2 linked regions of the Homo sapiens genome follow. The protein of the gene in region 1 purifies or fractionates together with the protein of each later gene. This does not show direct contact. Each region holds a gene or a part of one and is shown in the gene's direction. Other genes may lie near its edges.

The links.
Region 2: the proteins of ITIH3 (region 1) and LRRC47 purify together in Homo sapiens (affinity purification with mass spectrometry; one large-scale study listed by BioGRID and IntAct). This does not show direct contact.

What each region holds. Positions count from the first base shown.
Region 1 is NC_000003.12:52,804,652-52,807,216, forward strand, and holds part of ITIH3 (inter-alpha-trypsin inhibitor heavy chain H3 isoform 4 preproprotein), read left to right. Parts: intron 1-74; coding exon 75-83; intron 84-610; coding exon of another isoform or gene 611-721; intron 722-1,156; coding exon 1,157-1,189; intron 1,190-1,451; coding exon 1,452-1,487; intron 1,488-1,641; coding exon 1,642-1,755; intron 1,756-2,249; coding exon 2,250-2,454; intron 2,455-2,565. UniProt on the Homo sapiens protein: May act as a carrier of hyaluronan in serum or as a binding protein between hyaluronan and other matrix protein, including those on cell surfaces in tissues to regulate the localization, synthesis and degradation of hyaluronan which are essential to cells undergoing biological processes.
Region 2 is NC_000001.11:3,786,355-3,790,168, reverse strand, and holds part of LRRC47 (leucine-rich repeat-containing protein 47), read left to right. Parts: intron 1-2,858; coding exon 2,859-3,320; intron 3,321-3,814.

The sequences.
Region 1 (2,565 bases):
GCTCTGGTCCCTGCTCACAAGTGCCCTATGGCTTCTAATGCATTTCTCTTCTTCCTCCCTTGCTGCACCTGCAGATGCAGAAGGTAAGCCTTTAGCCAGCCACCGGGTTGGGCATTATGGAAGGGAGACAAGAGAGAACTGAGGAGGCCTTTCCAAGCAAGATAGGACCCCCAGCCATGGGGGCACACTTGGGACACCTGGGCTCAGGCCCAGCCCTATTGCCAAATCATGAACGTGCCCCTCTCTGAGCCTGAGGATCCCTGTGAGTTAATTGGGGGTGGCTTCCCTTGCCCAGGGAGACACAATCAGTATGACAGTATCTATGACCTGCAAAAATGAGCAATTTAGCATGTCAGTCATTTATACTTCATTAGTCCCATAGCAACCCTCCAAGAGGGCCCTTTTATGATCCCCATTTTACAATGGGGAAATTGAGGCACGGGGGGTTAATTTGCTCAGTCTGTTTGCTCACAGACTCAGCAGATGGCCAAGCTGGTACTTAGGCCAAGGCAGTCTGGCCCCAATGCCCATGCTGGGAATTGCTGGGGATCACAGTCCTCTGTGCCTCTCTCACCACAAAACTGGAACCTCACAAACTCCCTGCCACTAGGCAGGGCCTCCCCAGCCCCTACTGGCCTGCCCCACCTCCATTTGGACTGGCACATTTGGACTGGGCCATCACATTCCCCTCAGAACAGCCCTGATAAATGTACCGGTGCATGTGAGTACATATATGCATGTGCACGCATATGTGTGCGCCTGTGTGCACGTGTGGGTGGGTGTTTACTATCAAGAAGCAACAGACAGCCGTGAGCCTCACTCACCCCAACTAGGGGGTGGGAAGCCCAGGGGTGGGGCAGATGTTTGCTGTGAGCATTACTCAAGAGAGAGAAGATGACTTAATGGCTTGCATTTCAGCCACATCAAAAAGCCCTGCGCCAACGTTAAAATCACATCCCATTGCCACCAGCCCCATAAAGGGCTTCCCTGGACGTGCCCGATTTCCAAAGCCTAATCTTTGTAGTCACATCTCCACCTCTATCTGCCAGTGTTGGGGCCCCTCTGGGGCCCAGCAGCGCTAAGACAGGAGGAAGGCACGGGGCTGGGGGAGAAGGAACCCCTAGACCCTGCTCACCACTGCCCTTCGGCTTTTCAGCCACACCGGTGAGCCCCGCCATGTCCTACCTGAGTGAGTACATGCTGGCAGCTGCCACTCCTCCCACTGCTTAGAGCCTGCCCCTGCCACATGTCCCTCCACCGTGGCTACTCACTCAGCTCTCCGGGATGGGCAGATGGACAATGTGCCCTGAGGAGATTGCGGGGTGGGAGGGCAATGGCATTAGCGAGCGGGAAGGGGAGGGGAGGGGCATAAGCTGAACTCCTATGGGGGTCGTCGGGCGCCTCCCAGGGCCACTTGCTTAGCTCAGCCCTCTCTCCCTTTGTATCTGCAGCCAGCTACCAGCCTCCTCAAAACCCCTACTACTATGGTGAGTCCCTGGCTGCTCCTCGGGAAGGCTCAGGGGCCTGGGCACGTGCTCCTGCCTGTCTCGGAGTCGAGCCCATGGAGGCCAGAAGGCTGGGGGAGGCCCCAGGTATGATGAGAGGCCCCGGGAGTCAGCTCCTTCTCTAATGTGTCACCAGTGGACGGGGATCCCCACTTCATCATCCAAATTCCGGAGAAAGACGATGCCCTCTGCTTCAACATCGATGAAGCCCCAGGCACAGTGCTGCGCCTTATTCAGGATGCAGTCACAGGTGAGGCTTGTGGGCTAGGGCCGGGGCCAGGGGGCTCTTCCTGGGAGGGCTTGGGTCCCCCGAGGTAGGCACAGGGAACAGGTTCTCACTCTGCCCAGTAAGGCATCATCTTCACATGCAAAGAAACCCCTGGGGGTGGGGAGTGCCCAGGGCCACAGGCTTGCTCAGCCCCACATGCCAGTGCTATTGGGAGATGATTAGCGTGAATGGACCACCTGGGCCTAGGGTAGGACCCAGCCTGTGTCTGGGGAATAGCTTTTCTCTGAACAACACTCCCTGGCCCAGGCAAGTGGCAGACCCATAAGGTCCCAGCATGACCCAAACCTAGAGTGTCTAGGAACCAACAGGCTTGGGCTCTGAAGTCCTGGTCTCTCTTGTGGCCCCCGCTCTGCTGCCCCTCAGCCAGTCTGGTTGAAGAGGAAGGCACACCCCTAAAGGCAATCTGGACTCAGAAGTTCTCGCTGGTCTCTCTCCCTGCCCCATCCCTCTGGCAGGCCTCACAGTTAATGGGCAGATCACTGGCGACAAGAGAGGCAGCCCTGACTCCAAGACCAGAAAGACTTACTTTGGAAAACTGGGCATCGCCAATGCTCAGATGGACTTCCAGGTGGAGGTGACAACGGAGAAGATCACCCTGTGGAACAGGGCCGTGCCGAGCACTTTCAGCTGGCTGGACACAGTCACAGTCACGCAGGATGGGTAAGCTCCCCTACAAGGTCTCCAAGGTGGACTACAGGGTGAGAGTCTAAGGAGGCTCTTGAGGGATTTAGAAAAATCCCAGGACAGGAGATCCATGGGGGTCACAGGAAA
Region 2 (3,814 bases), on another chromosome or scaffold:
CAAAAGCCATGGGCCCGGAAGGCAGCCGGTATGCCAGGCCAGAGTCAGGACCCACGTTGCTGCCGTCAGCTTAGCCACTGCGAGGGTTGTGTTTCCTGCAGTAGAGTGTCAGCTCCGGGTGACAGGTGACGGCATTTCATCCCATCAGGTGTCAGGAGGACCCCTAGCCACCCCCTGTGTAACTCATCCTCCCCAAAGCCAGTGTGCACCTCACATCCTTGCGGGCGCGCCTGCTTGCTCCCTCACACAAGTGAAAACTGACGCCACCCTCATCCACCCTTCATGTGTGAAATCTCTGGCTTCATTTCCTGCTGAGGCCGCCACTGGGTGCCCAGTGCTGGCCTGAGGGGCCAGCGTGCGACCTCGTCAGCAGGGCCTTGCATTTCTGACAAGGACTCCCCAACATGTGCGGCTTTGCGCCCCACCCAGATGGTGACTCTCTTGCCCTCCCTCTTGCTCTCCTTCCCCCGCTTCCCTTCCTGTCCCCTGACTCCCCACAGAGCCTCCAGGCAGGTCCTGAGCTGCTCAGATGCCCTTTCTCTGACAGTCTTTGCCTGGAAGGAAGACCCTTCTCCGAGTGCCCGCCATCATCCTTTCGGGGACTCACTGCAGGCTGCAGGCTGAACTGGCTGTGGCTGCTCTGGGCGCCCCGGTGGGGCCCCGCCCGCCTCCTTCGCCTCTGCTGCTGCTCCTGGGTCTGAAGGAACTTGCTCTTTGTCAGCGGAGGGAGACGCCGCACTGCGTGTTTGCAGGCAGAAAGGAGGTTCCACTTGAGGGGAACTCTCAAGCTTTTTGACCAAAGCCCCTTAGGGCAGCGCAGAAACCCACAGAGCAGAACCTCAGATGCCTGTGCCCCCGAGCTTCCAACCTCAGAGCTTCCCTTGGCCTCTGCCAGGCAGGCTGTGCCCTGGGCTGGTGGCCCAGGCTGGTTCTAACGCTGGAGCCAGGGCTCTGACAGGGAGGTGAGGAGCTCTAGAAGGCTGAGCTCACGGCCGCACTGTTCCTGGTGCTGCAGGCTGGCGACAGCATTGGTGATACGGCTCCTGGTACTTTGTGAGGCCACCTGGATTCCAGGAGTAGATTGGCTCTCGTCCCATGTGGGGCCGGAAGGGAGGTCTGGGCTGGAGCCACCAGTCCAACAAGTCTATCCCAGCCCAGCCCACCCTGTGCTGAGAAGCACAGAATTGTGGCAGTTCTGTTAGATCCGATGGACGCGTGGCTCAGGTAGTGCCCAGCAGCTGGGCTTGGTCTCAGCCCCTGCCTTGTGTTCTTCCCCAGCAGGCGTCACTGCTGCTTAGACTGCCCCATTCTCTCCCAGAGGGCACGCGAGCCCTTTTATTTCTTTTACACATGCTGTTCCTGCTTGACTGTTAAGTTGTCGCTTCCTCCCTGGGTCTCTGTTCTCCCTGAGGGAACTCATCCAGTGCACCCTCCCATGTCTGAGCCGTGCCACCCTTCCCGCTTCTGAGCGCCATCCCATTTCTGAGCCATGCTGCCCTTACCCGTGTCTGAGCAGCTTGATTGCTTGAGCCGGAGGATTCCAGCAGGTTCCTTTTTTCATTTCCTTCACAACTTGGGGCTTGAGAAATTCCATCACCCCTGCCATCCATTCCAGGCGAAGCAGGAGGTGTCCTCTGAGTAATCAGCCCATCCCCAACTCTGTTCAGAGTCTATCAAGTCCAGCCCTACCTGTCTCCTCCACACCCAGTGTAACTAGGACTCACCAGCCACACTGACCAAGGGCGAGTGCTGGCTTCCAGGGGGCCCACATGCTGTTGCCTCCTCTCTGGGGGCAGAGCCGGCACCGAGGCTGCCAGAGATCCCCGAGGGTCAGGCTTTGCATCCTGAGCAGGGTCTTCCTCCAGCCCTAGAGGAAGCTGGGACAGAAGGGTTTGCTCGCAGTGCCTGCCCCACCACCCAGGCAAGGCTGTGGGGCCTGGGTACCAAGCCAGGAAAGAGCAGAGTGGAGGCGGATGGGCCCCTTTTGCCTGAACCTGCAGCGGCCGCCTCACGTCATGGAAGTGGCTGCCCTCACACGCACGTTCCCTGCGCTGCCCAGACCCTGGGAAAGACATCCTAAGAGTGCATCAGGTGCCACTGTACCCCTTCCATCCTTTCAGTGAGGTCACCTGCACGTTTTGCCAAAGTCTGATCAGTCACGGTCATAGAAAACGCTTTCCCGTGGGCCACGGGGCTTCCTGGGCATCTTTGTGGCACACGGTGGTGGGCCCGATGCACCTGTCCTGGGTCAGACGAAGGCTGAGAACCCATCGCCGTTGAAGTCGGCTTTCCCCTTTCCTTCCTGCGTGAACCCTGAGAGCACTCTGTGTGTCACTGCGGGCAACTTTGCACTTCATTATGAAGAAGAATGCTCTTAGAGATTTTGCTGTATTTTTTTTTTAGCTCATTTAATTAAAAAAAATAACACCACTTTGGGGAACCTGCTTCTCACCTGAGCAGTCCTGGCTAGGTCCCGACATGAGGTCACGTTTCACACCCAGACATCCCCTGTCTCTTGTCACCTTTCTGTTCTCTAACGTGATGATTGAGCTGCAGGGCTGCTGTGGTTGTTAAAGAGGGTGACATGTTTGAGTCAGAAGCTTTTGCAGAGATCACTGTTAACCGTGGCTGACGCCTTCTCCTCGGAGAGGCTCCTCGGATAGTGCCTTTGATGTGGGGTGCAGAGCTGGGGAAGTGACTCAAAGGTGAATGACTTGTGGCTCCCCAGGGACGCGTCCCCACAGACAGGCCAGTGGTGGCTCTTGTGAGTGATGAGTGGTCTCCCTGCCTCTCGAGCATGACCTTGGACTCTCTTCCCAGAGTCCGGGCGTCTGACGCGTCCATGTTTCTCTTTGCAGACGTTGGACCTCTCGAACAACCAGCTGAGCGAGATCCCTGCAGAGCTTGCGGACTGCCCCAAGCTCAAGGAGATCAATTTCCGTGGGAACAAGCTGAGGGACAAGCGCCTGGAGAAGATGGTCAGCGGCTGCCAGACCAGATCCATCCTGGAGTACCTGCGCGTCGGAGGCCGTGGTGGCGGGAAGGGCAAGGGCCGTGCCGAGGGCTCGGAGAAGGAAGAGAGCCGGAGGAAGAGGAGGGAGAGGAAGCAGAGGCGGGAAGGTGGTGATGGGGAGGAGCAGGACGTGGGAGATGCCGGCCGGCTGCTGCTCAGGGTCCTGCACGTCTCTGAAAACCCCGTACCTCTGACAGTCAGAGTGAGCCCCGAGGTCCGGGATGTGCGGCCCTACATTGTGGGGGCCGTGGTGCGAGGCATGGACCTGCAGCCAGGGAATGCACTCAAGCGCTTCCTCACCTCGCAGGTGGGTGCCCGTGGGGGTCCTCAGATGACTGGGACAGAGGTGTGAGACGCCGCAAGCTGGGACACATCCTGAGGCCAGCGTGTCCGAAGGAGCAGCAGTGGAGTATGGGGCCCAGCCGGGTGTCTGTGTGCTTCAGTTTCCTCAGCTCCAAAAAGGGAATAGAGCAGGTTCTGGCTCAGGTGTTGCTGAGGAGGGGGTAAGGCCTCAGTCCCCTCCGGGAGGCAGGTGTCTCCAGCGTGGAGATGGCCTCTTCACAGACGCCTGCACCCTGGCCTGGTTGGTCCTGGTCACTGGTCGTATCCCTTGCTCCTCCACATATGGTGTTAACGGTTTATCCTGATTTTTTTTTTTTAAGGAGTCTCGCTTTGTCTCCCAGGCTGGAGTACGGTGGCGCAGTCTAATCTCACTGTAGCGTCCGCCTCCTGGGTTCAAGTGATTCTCCTGCCTCAGCCTGCTGAGTAGCTGGCATTACAGGTGCTCACCATCATGTCTGG